Linked DNA regions of Homo sapiens: region 1 is linked to region 2. Evidence: fine-mapped expression QTL. Tissue or cell type: ovary. Region 2 holds a variant in brackets; the other region holds the start of a gene. All regions are shown on one strand. Distances are between the middles of the regions.

What was found. PIP is the estimated chance that this variant, and not a neighbour inherited with it, causes the effect.
Region 1: CRELD1 starts here. The variant in region 2 is fine-mapped to the expression of CRELD1 in ovary (GTEx, PIP 0.96).

The regions. Positions count from the first base shown.
Region 1 is chr3:9,929,520-9,937,519 of GRCh38, forward strand. It overlaps CRELD1 (CRELD disulfide isomerase 1), which reads left to right and starts at 4,315. Exons shown (of 11, transcript NM_001077415.3): 1 at 4,315-4,401; 2 at 4,901-5,093; 3 at 5,316-5,398. The coding sequence starts at 4,920. It overlaps IL17RC (interleukin 17 receptor C), which reads left to right. Exons shown (of 19, transcript NM_153460.4): 13 at 333-378; 14 at 509-630; 15 at 881-940; 16 at 1,376-1,424; 17 at 3,089-3,184; 18 at 3,301-3,339; 19 at 3,434-4,102. The coding sequence ends at 4,074. RefSeq lists silencers at 3,287-3,346, 3,927-4,256 and an enhancer at 4,357-4,726.
Region 2 is chr3:9,852,297-9,860,556 of GRCh38, forward strand. It overlaps the pseudogene MARK2P1. Among named protein-coding and RNA genes, the nearest start is that of RPUSD3, 12 kb to the left of the region's middle. RefSeq lists enhancers at 1,613-2,282, 7,031-7,571. The variant C/T (reference allele first, on the strand shown) is at 4,915.

The DNA of each region.
Region 1 (8,000 bases), 77 kb after region 2:
ATAAGGTGGGACTGGGGTTGCAATTTTTAGCAGGGTGGTCATGTGAGAAAGGAATCTCTTTGAGAAGGTTAGATGAGAGGGGAACCATGCTCCGTAAGACATAAAAACAGCTTTAGGGTCAGAAGACGCTTTATACAGATGATCTCACAAGGCTGGGGCAGAGAAAGATGTAGTGATTCCTAATCACCCAGCCTTGAATCCACATCTGCCTCAGGTCAGATTGAGTGCAGATTCCCAACCCAACAGGCCTTCTGTTGCCTGCCCCATTCTGGTCTTTCTGCCTTTGGCTTTTGCTTTTCTTAGTGGCCCTAACCATGGTCTCTTCCCAGCAGGTGAACAGCTCGGAGAAGCTGCAGCTGCAGGAGTGCTTGTGGGCTGGTGAGTTGGGCCTGGGGGCAGCTGGGGCAGGGCCACCTCCTAGGGGTGAAGGTCAGGGCATGGGAGGCAGGCAAGTGGCCAATCCCAGCAAGGATGGGTCTTGGTCAGAGTGGCCTCTCACCCCTTCCAGACTCCCTGGGGCCTCTCAAAGACGATGTGCTACTGTTGGAGACACGAGGCCCCCAGGACAACAGATCCCTCTGTGCCTTGGAACCCAGTGGCTGTACTTCACTACCCAGCAAAGCCTCCACGGTTAGGACTGGGCGACCCTCCTCCACAGATCTCTCCAAATGCATCTCACATCTGGCCTCAAATTTTCACTCCATCCACCCTGTGCCGGTCTCTGGGAACATGGGGGGTGACTCAGACCAGGGCCATATTCAGCGGCATCACCAAAGTCTCCCAGTCCCCTCTACCTCATTCTACCCAGCTGTAGCCTGGTAGGTGCTGCCCTAAGGGTGCTACCTCCAGGTAACAGTGCCCCCATCCTTTGGCTTGGCAGAGGGCAGCTCGCCTTGGAGAGTACTTACTACAAGACCTGCAGTCAGGCCAGTGTCTGCAGGTGAGCTGGTGGAAGAAGGGCCCCACCTCAATGCCTAGGGGCAACAGGCCTAAAACTAGCACTCACCTACTGTCTATTTAGGCTTATTTTATGTTCAGCCCTGGGAAAGTTAAGAGTAGAAGAAGCACAGTTCCTATCCCCAAGGAGCACACTGTTGGCTAGACACCCATAAACAGATAACCACACCTACAGGTGCTAAGTTTTGGGTTCCAGGGAGAGCTTCCGGGAAGAATTTCTTCCTATAAGCCAGATTTGGTATGGAAGAAGTCATACCCTAGTCAGTGGGCACAGCACAAAGGCAGAGCAGCTGCAGGAACCTTAGCCGGGAGATATGCATAGTTGATGCTGGGAATTTGGAGATCAGGCCACCAGAGCTTGGTGAATATTGGAACACCTGGCTGGTGCCCTGGATTTGGTTCTGTTTGTATCTTACAGCTATGGGACGATGACTTGGGAGCGCTATGGGCCTGCCCCATGGACAAATGTGAGTATTGTAAGAACTGCCTTTCCTTTCTGTACCAGGAGTGGGGATCTTGACAGGGACCACTCTTGGGCACAGCACATGCAATGGCCTTGTCCTTCCCTGAGATCAGATAAACAGAGGGTCATTCCTTCATTCACTCAAAAAATGATGAGAGCTTGCAGGGATCGCAGGAACACCAAAAATATAAATCCTTGCCCCCGCCCCACCCCTAGAAGACTAGCAAGACATGAGCCAGTCACTTACATTTAAAGTGGGAGCTACTGAAGCACCACCAAGTGTTCAGTGCTGTAAATGCATACAATGTGGACCTGACCTGGGTGGGGTGAGGGGTGAGGGGCTCAGGGGGAAGGTTCCAGCAAAACTCTGAAGACTGAGCTAGGGGAAGGGGGTAGAGATACAGGGTCTTGGACAGGCAGGTTTCTGTCATGAGATAAAGATGCAGGAGACATGTAGGGGATTTGGATCTTATGTTGAGAGCAGCAGGAGCTACGATCAAATTTTTATATATTTCACACACACACACACACATATATATATATATATATATATATATATATATACTTATTTTTTTATTTATTTTTGAGGCAGAGTCTCACTCTGTTGCCCAGGCTGGAGTGCAATGGCGCGATCTCGGCTAACTGCAACCTCTGCCTCCCGGGTTCAAGCAATTCTCTACCTCAGCCTCCCGGGTAGCTGGGATTAATAGGCGCCTGCCACCATGCCCTGCTAATTTTTGTATTTTTAGTAGAGATGGGGTTTCACCATCTTGGCCAGGCTGGTCTTGAACTCCTGACCTCGTGATCCGCCCGCGTCGGCCTCCCAAAGTGCTGGGATTATAGTCGTGAGTCACCGCACCTGGCCCAAATTTATATTTTTAAAAGATCTCTGAGGCTGTCATGAATCAATTCAAGGCAAATCAATTGGAGGTAAAAAAAAAAAAAAAAAGACAGGGCAGGGACACCAGGTAGTTGCAGACACCCAGGACAGCAAGATCAAGGGCCCAGCAACCCTAGCTTAGGGGAGAAAAACAGCTGACATTTTAGCACTTAAGATGCTCGGCATTGTGTTAAGTATGTATTAACACATTGTGTTAAGCTTTATATGTATTAATATATTTAGTCCTCACACCAACCCTATGACACAGGTACAACTTTACAGAGGAGAAAACTGAGGCAGAGGGTGACATTACTTATTCAAAGACCCCTAAACAGATGGAGCTATATTCATCCACTGGCTCTGACACTGTGCTGTGGACTCTGGGCAAATCATTTCTTCGTTTTTTGTTTTGTTTTGTTTTGTTTTGAGAGGAGTCTCACCCTGTCGCCCAGGCTGGAGTGCAATGGCGCGATCTCGGCTCACTGCAACCTCTGCCTCCCGAGTTCAAGCGATTCTCTTGCCTCAGCCTCCCGAGTAGCTGGGATTACAGGCGTGTGCCACCACGCCCGGCTAATTTTTTGTATTTTTAGTAGAGACGGGGTTTCACCGTGTTAGCCAGGATGGTCTTGATGTCCTGACCTCGTGATCTGCCCGCCTCGGCCTCCCGAAGTGCTGGGATTATATAAAGGCATGAGCCACCGCACCCGGCCCAATTCATTTCTGTTAAGTCTCAGTTTTTCTTCTCTGTGGAGGGTAAGTTTCTAACTCTTCTTCTCTGGGTCTCCCAGACATCCACAAGCGCTGGGCCCTCGTGTGGCTGGCCTGCCTACTCTTTGCCGCTGCGCTTTCCCTCATCCTCCTTCTCAAAAAGGATCACGCGAAAGGTGAGCGCTTCCCGGCTCCCCATTCCCCTGGGGGAGGACCAGAGTGGCTGTGGGAGTTCTCCGAGGGAAAGCGGCGGCCGAGCTCACTGGCTGCCTCCGCCCCTCTCCCCTAACAGGGTGGCTGAGGCTCTTGAAACAGGACGTCCGCTCGGGGGGTGAGTGGGAGCAAGCGCTGGGCGGAGGGCCGCCCCCGGGGAGCCAGGCCTGTGCCAGCTCACCTCTTCCCTCCCCATCTGTTTTCTCCGGCAGCGGCCGCCAGGGGCCGCGCGGCTCTGCTCCTCTACTCAGCCGATGACTCGGGTTTCGAGCGCCTGGTGGGCGCCCTGGCGTCGGCCCTGTGCCAGCTGCCGCTGCGCGTGGCCGTAGACCTGTGGAGCCGTCGTGAACTGAGCGCGCAGGGGCCCGTGGCTTGGTTTCACGCGCAGCGGCGCCAGACCCTGCAGGAGGGCGGCGTGGTGGTCTTGCTCTTCTCTCCCGGTGCGGTGGCGCTGTGCAGCGAGTGGCTACAGGATGGGGTGTCCGGGCCCGGGGCGCACGGCCCGCACGACGCCTTCCGCGCCTCGCTCAGCTGCGTGCTGCCCGACTTCTTGCAGGGCCGGGCGCCCGGCAGCTACGTGGGGGCCTGCTTCGACAGGCTGCTCCACCCGGACGCCGTACCCGCCCTTTTCCGCACCGTGCCCGTCTTCACACTGCCCTCCCAACTGCCAGACTTCCTGGGGGCCCTGCAGCAGCCTCGCGCCCCGCGTTCCGGGCGGCTCCAAGAGAGAGCGGAGCAAGTGTCCCGGGCCCTTCAGCCAGCCCTGGATAGCTACTTCCATCCCCCGGGGACTCCCGCGCCGGGACGCGGGGTGGGACCAGGCGCGGGACCTGGGGCGGGGGACGGGACTTAAATAAAGGCAGACGCTGTTTTTCTACCCATGTGGCCCACACGCGTCTCCGTTTCAGTGGCGGGGCTGGCAAACGTCATTCCCTAGCCCCGCGGCCCTTTAAAGCCCGGACAGGTGCAGCTCGGTGCCGCCTCTGGTTGGCTGGCGTGGGGTGACGTAATGGCACATGGCCCGTCGCCATTGGCTGGGCGGCAAGCTCCGCCCCCTGGACTGCGGCGCGGGTGGGGGTTGTGCGTTTTACGCAGGCTGTGGCAGCGACGCGGTGAGGAGACGGCCCACGGCGCCCGCGGGCTGGGGCGGTCGCTTCTTCCTTCTCCGTGGCCTACGAGGGTCTGGATCCTTCTCTGCCGGCTCGTGGGCCGTGCCTTTGCCCTTCTGCGAGGCCCTGAATCTGATCCCTTCCCTTCATATCCGGATCCGGGCTCCTCCCTCCAAGCCCGGGGTTCCGGACACCTCCCCCAAGACAACCCCTCTGGCCTCCTCTCCTTCAGTACTTGGAATCTGATCTCTTCTCCCTAATTCTGCGGATCCGGCCCCTAATATTCTTTATCAGACCCTCAGACAAGAGGCTGACTTCTGCCCCCTTGTCAAGGAGCGAGGCCACTTTCCTCTCCACCCCATGCTAGCGAGGATAACTTATTTCTCTTCTGGAATTGCATCTTATGCGCCTTTCCCCACCCATCCCCACAGCCCCTGCAATACCCAGTTTGGCCTCTTTTGCTTGTAATAACGCAGATCCCAGCGCCACGGCACCTTAGAACAGACCTTTTTCTTTCTCGCGTGGGGCCTGACTCCTTCAGTGAAGCCTCTCCACGCCCTCTATCTGCAGGTCCCCAGCCTGGGTAAAGATGGCCCCATGGCCCCCGAAGGGCCTAGTCCCAGCTATGCTCTGGGGCCTCAGCCTCTTCCTCAACCTCCCAGGACCTATCTGGCTCCAGCCCTCTCCACCTCCCCAGTCTTCTCCCCCGCCTCAGCCCCATCCGTGTCATACCTGCCGGGGACTGGTTGACAGCTTTAACAAGGTGGGTGCACCGGCAGCCTCGTTAGAGGGGAACACAGCGATTTAGAGTGGGGAACTCTGGGATGCAAATCTGCGTGGATTTAAGTTTCATCTTGGTCTCTTACTAGTTGTATGGCCCTAGGCAGGTTGCCTTTCTGTGCCTCAGTTTCCTAGTCAGTAGAACAGTGAAGTGCTAGCATGTGCCAGGCACTGTACTTAGCTATTACTAATTTTCTGTTTCCAGGGCCTGGAGAGAACCATCCGGGACAACTTTGGAGGTGGAAACACTGCCTGGGAGGAAGAGAATTTGTCCAAATACAAAGACAGGTAAGGGGCTGCTGGGGGAAGGGGTGTATATTCCCCTCCCCGCCAAATCTCTGCTCTGCTGGTGTAGGGCTAGGAACTCTTGGGGAGCACTTATTCATTCAACAAATAGCACTGAACATCTATAGTATAGCAGTAAACAAGGCAAGCAAAATGCCCCCTTCCTGGAGCTCACATTCTAGTAGAGAAGACAAGCAGTGAATGAGTAAGTGAATAATATTATGTCAGATGAAGAACAAACAGTGAAGCACGGTAGACTGCAGGACGGTGGGAGGCAAGGTGTTCAAGGTTTGGCATTTGAACAGAGAGACAGGAAGTGAAGAAGCGAGCTATGTGACAGGGAGGGAATTGGGCAGAGGATGGGACTGAGCTTGGTGTATTTGAGAAGTGGCTGGAGTGGAGTGAGCCAAGGGGAGAGTGCTAGAAGGTGAAGGCAAAGGCTTAAGCCTCGAGGGCTACAGAAAAGAGTTTAGATTTTTTTTGGAGTGTAATGGGAAGCTCTTGGAAGGCTATGAGCAGAAAAAGTGATACTGTCTTCTCTACACCTTTAAAGATTACTCACACTGCTATGTAGCAAACGGATTGTAAGGGGCAAGGGCGGAGGAAGCAGGGAGACCAGTTTGGGAGGCAAGTGCATCATCTAGGTACAAAGGCAACACAAGCTAGTGTGGTATCTAGTGGAGGACATGATGAAGAGGTCACAGTCTGGGTATATTTTGCAGAGAGAACAATAGGACCTGGTGATAGATTCATTATGGGTATAGAGAAACAGTAGAATAAAAGATGCTTACTAGATTTTGGGCCTGAGCAACTGGGTGAGTAGTGCAGCTGTTTTCTAAGATGGTGAGATGCGAAACCGAGAAGGTTTAGGGGAGGGGTGGGATGTGGTGTTCTTTGAACGTATTGGGCTGAAATGTCCATTAGACATCCAGGTAGACTCCATACAAATCTGGAATTCAGAAAAGAGTAGGAATTGGAAACAGGAATTTGAGAGTTGTCATTATATAGTCAGTATGTAAAGAAAGCCATGGGAAGGATACAGAAAGCCATTATATAGTCAATATATGTAATACAGAAAGCCATTTATATAGTCAGTATGTAAAGAAAGGCATGGGAAGGATACAGAAAGGCGAGCCCTGAGCCCTCCAGCTTTTCAAAGTCAGATGGAAGAGGAGTCAGCAAAGGCTCAGAGTTAGACCTGGTTGTCGGTTCTTAACCTCTCAGAGCCACAGTTTCTTCACCTGTAAAATGGGGATATTAATACCTGGTTTGCCTATTTCATAGAAGTGTGGAAAAGGCTTAACTGGGATGCCCACTAGAAATAAAGGTTTTGTTATTATGTAACATTGGTCATTTTCTCTTTTCCTTCGCCGGGCCTGAGTTTCCTCATTCAGGAATGAGGGGATTGGCTAAGACAACCCCAGAGGCACTTCCAGCTTTGTAATGGCTCCTGCGTTGCTTGCTTTTTTAAATCACCTCCTATATGCCAGGCACTGTGCCAGACCCTTTAAATACAGGATATAAGACATCAAATATTTATATATGTGTGTATATATATGTGTGTGTGTATATATATATGTGTGTGTATATATATGTGCATATATGTCTGCGTATATATATGTGCGTATATATATGCGTATATATATATATATATGTATATATTTGTGGTAAAATACACATAAAAAATTTCCCATTAAAGACATTTAATAATATTTACAATGTTGTGTAACCATCACCACTATGTAGTTCCAGAACATTTTCATTACCCCCCCAAAAAATCCTATACCTATTACACAGCCACTCCCTATTCTCCCCTTCCCTCGGCTCTTGGCAATCACTAATTTGTGTTAGTCAAGCAGAAATTATGGATTTGCTGATTTCATTGGAATCATAAAATATGTGGCCTTTTGTGTCTGGCTAGTTTCACTTAGCATAATGTTTTCAAGGTTCACCCATACCGTAGCATATATCAATACTTATTCCTTTTTATGGCTGAATAATATTCTCATTTGGCTGTACCACATTTTGTTTAACCATGCATCAGTTGATGGACATCTGCATTGTTTCTACCTTTTGGCTGTTGTGAATAGTGCTGCTATGAACATTGTCTACAAGTTTTCGTTTGAACACCTGTTTTCCATTCTTTTGGGTCTATATCCAGTAGTGGAATTGGCAGGTCCTATGGCAATTCCATGTTTTACTTATTGAGGAACTGCTTTTCCACAGTGGTGATGCCATTTTGTATTCCCACCTGCAGTGTGGGAGGATTCTAATTTCTCCACATCCCTGCCAACACTTGTTATAGGATGTATTTTTAGCCATATCTACCCAGCAAGGGTATTATATTCCATTGCTCAGATGCAGGAACTGATGTATGTTACAACAAACCTGCAGGGAAGGTATTGTCATCCCCATTTTACAGATGACAAAACAAAGAGGTTCAGAGAGGTTAAGTGACTTGCCCACTAGATCTACCACTAGATTTGAACCCAGGTCTCTCTGCTTCCCAGAACCATGACCCCTTCCATTATACCTCATGGCCTCTCCTTTGATATTTTCACCGCACGAGGAAGGGTGGAGAGAGACTTGAGGAGGGTGGTGGGTG
Region 2 (8,260 bases):
CAGTTCCCAGTAGTTGATCTGCATCTATGTTAACTGGAGGATTAGCAGCCCTATTTTTTCGGACCTGTTCTTGTGCCCCATTAATCCACCAAATCTTAAATTGTAAAAATTGAGAGGGTGAGAGAGACGATTTTGCCAGAATCTCCCAATCATAAGGAATGAGTCTATGTCCGTGTGCAATGGAATCTAATAATGTCCTCATATAAGGGGAGTTGGGTCCATACTGTTTTATTCCCTCTTTCATGTCTTTTAGCATTTTTATAGAAAAAGACTTGTATCTGGCCTCAACTGTGGGAGGCTCTCCCTCTTGGGCTCCTTCTCCAGGTGGTATCAGTTCTAACATTAGTGGGAATGGCCACGCCTCAATATCTCCTTGCTTTCTTGACTTATCAATAATTTTATGTAATGCACTACCCTGTCTATTAGGTGGTGCTGTAGGATTAAGTCTCATAGTGGGCGGCTGAGGGTATGGCGCCCTGCCCTGTGGTGCTGGGAGCATTCCTGGATGTCCATACTGACTTTCTGGGGGTGGCCGATACTGAAATTCAGCCGGCAGCCAGTATTGATAAGCTACTGGTGGTTGGGTCTTATTTTCTCTAACCTGTGTTTGAGGTTGTAATGTTACGGGCATCTGACCTGCTGGAAGAGGACTTGTCCCTCGTGGTTTAGACTCTGATGGCCCCACTAATTCTGGACCTTTTTCTTCTAATTTTAACGTTTCAGGGTATATCACCTGCTGTAATTGATTATAGTCAACATTTTGCATTGACTGAGCCATTACCAGCTCTACTGCATATTCACAATGTAAACTTTCCATTTCTTTCCGGGATTTCCTCCCCGCCTCTTCTTTACAATCTATTACACAGCCTTCAGGGGCATCAGAAACTGAAACGCTATCTTCTTCTGTTTGAAATGGTTCTAAAGCTGCTTTAATAATGGCCCAATCATTCCATACTGTAAGTGGGATGATTTTACCCTCCCTACTTGCTTGTTTTAATTCTTTGCCAATTTTTTTCCAATCTTTTAGATCTAAAGTTCCCTATTCTGGAAACCATGGGCAAAATTGTTCTATTGTTCAAAATAGCTTGATCAGATTTTTTGTAGGTACTCTAACTCCCCCGCTTTTTAAAAGAATTTTAATAAAGCTGAGATAAGAGGCATATTTACTTTTAGTTTTACTTTTAGTTTGCCTCATTGTTACCCCGGCTTCTTCCAAGCGCACAAGCTTACCGCAAGGCTGACTGTAGACGTACTCGGGATCTCTTGTGGACTTGTCCTCAATGACCACACTCGAGCGTACCTTCACCCTAGAGAAAAGCACCCACGTTGGGCACCAGATGAAGGGGTGGGTTGCCCCTCCACACCTGTGGGTGTTTCTTGTTAGGTGGAATGAGAGACTTGGAAAAGAAAGAGACACAGAGACAAAGTATAGAGAAAGAAATAAGGAGGCCCAGGGGACCGGCGTTCAGCATACGGAGAATCCACCCCAGCCTCTGAGTTCCCTTAGTATTTATTGATCATTATTGGGTGTTTCTCGGAGAGGGGGATGTGGCAGGATCATCAGATAACAGTGGAGAGAAGGTCAGCAGATAAACACGTGAACAAAGGTCTCTGCATCATAGACAAGGTAAAGAATTAAGTGCTGTGCTTTAGATATGTATACACATAAACATCTCAATGCCTTAAAGAGCAGTATTGCTGCCCGCATGTCCCACCTCCAGCCCTAAGGCGGTTTTCCCCTATCTCAGTAGATGGAATCGGGTTTTACACCGAGACATTCCATTGCCCAGGGACAAGCAGGAGACAGATGCCTTCCTCTTGTCTCAACTGCAAAGAGGCATGCCTTCCTCTTTTACTAATCCTCCTCAGCACAGACCCTTTACGGGTGTCGGGCTGGGGGACGGTCAGGTCTTTCCCTTCCCACGAGGCCATATTTCAGACTATCACATGGAGAGAAACCTTGGACAATACCTGGCTTTCCTAGACAGAGGTCCCTGTGGCCTTCCGCAGTGTTTGTGTCCCCGGGTACTTGAGATTAGGGAGTGGTGATGACTCTTAACGAGCATGCTGCCTTCAAGCATCTGTTGAACAAAGCACACCCTGCACAGCCCTTAATCCATTTAACCCTGAGTTGACACAGCACGTGTCTCAGGGAGCACAGGGTTGGGGATAAGGTTACAGATTAAAATGGAGTCTCTTATGTCTACTTTCTATACAGACACATTAACAATCTGATCTCTCTTTCTTTTCCCCACAACCAAGGGCCCAGCTCCTAACATGCAGGTGTCACCAGAGAGAAATGCACCACTGTGCCCAGCACCATAGCTCTGGCTCAGAGAGTTTGCCTGAGAAAGCAGCAGACAGAAAACAAAAGGTGCGAGTTGCTCCCGAAGGAACTGACTTCATGTGCAACAGAGCTCGGAGAAGTCCAAGGCTAAGCACACTCTCCAGAACAGTGGAGGTTGTGCTGAAAGGCAACTGGGAGGCGACGGAGAGCCTGGGAGGTGCGGGCTACACTGGAGGCCAGCAAGTCTGCCAGAGAGAAACAGAAAAAAAGACAGGTGGGAAGAGCTCTCCTGGGGTCAGAACAAAGCTTAATATCTTCTTTGACAAAGAACGTAACATCAAAATAGCCAACTATGGGTTTAGTTCAACATTTGCAAAGAGAGACAACACTGAAAAGGGAACGTTTGATGGGACTCTCCCTTATGCAGGCCCAGAACTCTTCTTGGGCCATGGGTACCAATGCCCTGCCATCAACGTTTGGAGCCTTGGCATCATCGTATGCAAAATGGTGGCTGGGGCCCTGCCATTTTATGAGCAGAACTGTAAGGATATACTGAAAAAAAAAAAATTAAAATAGTATGCTACTTTTTTATTCATTTTATGGAAAAAAATATTTAAAAATTCTTCACACTCAACCCCAGGGAGCAGCTCCCACTGGACCAGCTGTTGAGGAACTCCTGGGTCAATAGTGACCAGAAGACATGATTCAAGCCATACAGAGAGCCACTCCTGGACTACCCAGGCCCCCCAACAACCCAGCTCATAGTGGCCATGGGATTCTAGGAAGAACATATCGAGGAAGTGATATTAAAAAAATATATGATCATCCCATGGCCACCTACCTAATCATGGAGTTCAGAAAAGTGCAGAGGAGAAAGGGCTCCAACATCGGAGCACAATCCCTCCCTCCCGGGGATCCCATCTGTCCTTCCCCATCTGCCACAGTTAAGTCAACCTTCCCTGTCCAACCCAGAAGAGGACTCAAAACCAGCCGACCTTTCCCACTTTCTAATTCACAGAAGCATGAACACCATCCTGGGAGTTAGGGCAGAACCCTACTTGGCCTGGAGATGAAGCCAGCCATTCCCAGCAAAGCCCCCCAGCATAAGTCTGTGGCTTCACCCTCCCCAGAGCACCAGCAGCCATGGGGAAAACCTGAAGGATCCTTGTCTCTGGGAACCCACTGGGAAGTCGGCTCGCTCCATGTGGAAGACCCAGAAGAGGTGGCTTGGTCTGAGGGAACCCCCGGGAAGCTGGATGGTATAACCTCAATCTCTGTGACTAAAAGGAGCCATGGCTACCATGGGCAAAAGATGTTTCAGTTTCATGCTGCAATTATGTTGTTTCTGACTAGCACAAAAAAGTCAAAGGGAGAAATAAGGCAGCACCAGTGAACCCAATGGACAGCTGGGCCCAGACAAAAACCAAGTGGGTGGGGCAGTCAAGCTACACTTCCTGTGTTTTATTACATTTATTATGTTCTTCTTAATATTATTTTAATTGGCAAATCATGCTTGTATTCATTTATAAGATACAGTGCGGGGATTAGATAGATGTGTGCACCATGGAATGACAAAATCACACTACATAGTATCTGCATCACCTCAGAAAGACACATTCCACGTGATGTCCCTGAAGTGTCCATCTAAAAAAGTTGACCTCATAGAAATAGCGAGTGGGTCGATGGTGAACGATGGCTGGGAGTGGTGTGTGGAGGGGTGGCAGAGGGAAGAAATGGGGGCTTGTCGGTCAAAAAACCACAGTCTCAGTTGGAAAGGAGGAAGAGGTTTTGACATCTAGTGCACAGCAGGGTGACCAGAGTCAATGAGAATGTGTTGCATATGGCAAAACACCTGAGAGGGTCCATGTCGAATCCTGGCATTCAGAATGGAGAAAATAAAGGCCCTGAGGTTCAAGAACATTAAAAACCTTGTGACAGGTTGACCACGTGTAGACTTCAACGGCTGTGGGTGAGAACTGGGCAAGATGCCGATGCTGCCATTTGCCCAGCACATCTGGCCCAGAGGCATTCAGCAGAGGACGCAGATGTCCAAGCTGCTACCAGGGTCAGTGGAACAGGATTCAAAAGTCAAGAGGGCATCTGGCAACCCTGTGGCCTCCAAAGGCCTATCAAAAGCTATAGGTGAGCTGAAGGGCAGCCTAGAGACTCCTGGAGACCAGAGGGCCCCTCCACCCCACCTGGCCCGGAGCACCATCTCTTCCTCCTGTCTGTCCCCTGCTTCCTCTGTCCTGCCATCTCCCCCTTCCTCCACCCTCAGCTCCCTGCAGTCCTCTCTCCACCTTTCCAAGGTAGACGCAGCTTGCTGCTCTGCTGTCCTGAGTCCCCACTAAGACTGTGGTTTCTGGTCCCTGCTGACCTCTGGGACTTGATTTCCCTGGCCTTTTGCCCCACCTCCTTTCTGTTTGTCCCAGCCCCACCCCCAACTCCCTCTCCCCCAGCTCCTCCTCTGCTATTCCTAATCCCCTCATCCTGATTGCTTTTTTGCTACATTTTCTCTAGCTAAATCATCTTTTATTTACTTGCTAATAATCTATCCATGGGTCCCCTGGAAGTCTGTCTTGTGCTACATACAATGATGAAAATCTAGGGCCCGGTGTGGTGGCTCA[C/T]GCCTGTAATCCCAGCACTTTGGGAGGCCAAGGCGGGCGGATCACGAGGTCAGGAGATTGAGACCATCCTGGCTAACACAGTGAAACCCCGTCTCTACTAAAAATACAAAAAATTAGCCGGGCGTGGTGGCGGGCGCCTGTAGTCCCAGCTACTCAGGAGGCTGAGGCAGGAGAATGGCATGAACCCAGGAGGTGGAGCTTGCAGTGAGTGGAGATCCTGCCACTGTACTCCAGCCTGGGCGACAGAGCGAAACTCCGTCTAAAAAAAAAAAAAAGAAAAGAAAAGAAAAGAAAATCTAGGCCGGGTGCTGTGGCTCACGCCTGTAATCCCAGCACTTTGGGAGGCCGAGGCAGGCAGATCACAAGGTCAGGGATTTGAGATCAGTCCGACCAACATGATGAAACCTCGTCTCTACTAAAAATACAAAAATTAGCCGGGTTTGATGGCGCATGCCTGTAATCCCAGCTATTCAGGAGGCTGAGGCAGGAGAATCGTGTAGACCTGGGAGGCGGATGTTGCAGTGAGCTGAGATTGTGCCACTGCACTCCAGCCTGGGCAAAAGAGCTAGACTCCATCTCAAAAAAAAAAAAAGGAAAGAAAATCTGGAAACTGTAATTTAACTCCTGGCCCTAGACAGGACTCAAGTTTTGTGAAAGGGAGGAAGAAAAAAAAAGCAAACCCCACCAAACCAACACCTAGTCTAAAGCCTGATATAAATGCCATTCAAAACATGTTTCCTCCTTTATTCTTTTTTTTTTTTTTTTTTTGAGACAGAGTCTCGCTCTGTCACCCAGGCTGGGGTGTAGTGGCGCAACCTCAGCTCACTGCAACCTCTGCCTCCTGGGTTCAAGCCATTCTCCTCCCTCAGCCTCCCAGTCGCTGGGATTACAGGCACCTACCATCATGCCTGGCTACTTTTGTTTTTTTGAATTTTTCGTAGAGATGGGGTTTCACCATGTTGGCCAGGCTGATCTCAAACTTCCATCCTCAAGAGATCTGCCTGCATCAGCCTCCCAAAGTGCTGGGATTACAGGCGTGAGCCACTGCGCCTGGCCTCCTTCCTTTATTCTTCAATAACCAGAAAATTCTTCCTGAAAAAGGTGGCCCCTGAGACCATTTGGAAGCATCACAGGGGGGAGGGGCAAGGGTCCTGCGAGCTGGTCTTGCCATCCCTTGTCCCCCAGTTTACATGAAGCCGAGTTTACATGAAGCCAAGCTCCAGAGAAGAGGCAGGGCCTGTGGGGCATTTGGATTACACTCCAAGTCTAATTCCCAGTCCAGCAATCCTGCCCCCAGAGGCTTCCTTCATCTTTCCACTTAGCCAAGGAAGGAGCAGGTCAGCTCATGCCCCCTGCCTGGATGCAGACAACAACCATCAGAAGGCCATCCGTGTAGCCGGGGCCCCAGAACAATGTCTGGAAATGGCTCAAGGAGCTGAAGCCCTTTAGCCTCAAGAAGAGCATGAGGGACCCAGCACCCTTCTGAAACCTAAACTACATTCTGGCCTGAGCCATTTTGCACTGTCTGTGCCCTAGAAAGCTGTGAAGGCCTGTAAGTGGGTCTTCCTGTTTCCCTGTCTTCTGAGGCCCAGGCCTTTCTTAGAGCTTCCGTGGGTCCCACCCTTACACGCATCACACCGTGTCTGGGCTCTGCCTGCCTGGCTTACACTCCCTACCCCCAACCACTGCCCTATTTCCACCCCCGGGACATCCTGCTGGGCACTGCTGTTCCCTCTCTTAGAAGATTTTCACAGGTCCTGCCCTTCCCTTTTGCCAATTGATATCATTTGGCTGTGTCCCCACCCAAATCTCAACTTGGATTGTATCTCCCAGAATTCCCATGTGTTGTGGGAGGGACTCAGGAGGAGGTAATTGAATCATGGGGGCCATGATTTCCCAAGCTATTCTCATGATAGTGAATAAGTCTCATGAGATGTGATGGGTTTATCAGGGGTTTCCGCTTTTGCTTCTTTCTCATTTTCTCCTGCTGCCACCACGTAAGAAGTACTTTTTGCCTCCTGCCATGATTCTGAGGCCTCCCCAGACATGTGGAATTGTAAGTCCAATTAAACCTCTTTTCCTTCCCAGTCTCAGGTATATTTTTATCAGCTGAATGAAACAGACTAATACACCAATCAAGTGAATGTCACCTCCTCAGAGAAACCCTCCCTGAGCACCCCATCTGCAGTAGGGTCACCCCATCTTCCACCTTCACTTTTCCTGGTGTTTCCTTCTTAGCCCCTATTTCCATGGGGAGTCTTTGCTCTGACAGACTAGTCTCCCTCACCCACCCGGGGCCAGCCTGTCTGTCTTCTCTGTCCCTGTACATGGGAGATGATCAATGTTCATTTGTTGGCATCAGTAAAACAGGAAGGCCCCTGAGGTGCAAGGATTGGAAGCCCTTCCCCCCAGGTGAGGAAAGAGCCTTGAGGCAGGGTAGAGGACCCGAGTTAGTGCCCTCTCCCTACCCCGAGGGTCAGCCCTGGGCAGGACGGGCCACGGCCCCTTGGGGCACCTGTTGCCTGTGCCCTTGATGGGTGGCCTGCAGGGGACGTGGCCGCACTTGGTCAGTGGTGGTTCTGGGTCAGCCACATTCAGGTGGGCAGCATTTTAGGAAGGACAAACTCCAAAACCCAGGCTCCAAAGGATCCACGGGAAGGTCGAGAGGCTCAGGGGAGTGTCCTGGTGGCTGGGCCAGCGCTTTGAGGCCCCTGGGGAACCAGCAGAGAGGGCCTGCGTGAGGCATCTGGAGGCTCTGAGCACCTCTGGAATCCCAGCGACCTGCAGAGGTTGCCCGTCTCTGTGGGGGCAGCAGCGCCTGAAGGGAGGTGGCCATAGCAGCCCACAGGGGCCCAGGGCTGACCAGCTCTGCCTTGGGTGCCAAGGCTGGGCAGGGCCTGTGCCCTTGGGAGTCCTGTTTCAGACCCACCTCAACCACATGGCCCTGCCCTCATCTTATTTGCCTGGACAGCAAGGCCTGCAGAAACTGATTTGCTCATCCAATTTGGGGAACCTGAGCTCCCTGCTGGGCAAGCCTGATGGTTTCACAGCTGCCCATGATGGTTTCCTCGGCAACTTCAAATCAGACTCTGCTCCTTAGTTGCCAGCACCTTTACTAAAGAAGGTGGGGGCGGTGGGCAGAAAGCATGGGGGTGTCGTGTCATGGTGACAGGTGTAAGGAGAAGGCAAAGAGTTTTCCACTTCCATTGATGGTAGCAGTGGCGGCCACCTGACCCAGGGCACCATCTCTTCCTCCTGTTTGTCCCCTGCTTCCTCTGCCCTGCCACCTCCCCCTTCCTCCCCAATGAGGTCACTGCAGTTCTCTCTCCACCTTTCCAAGATAGAT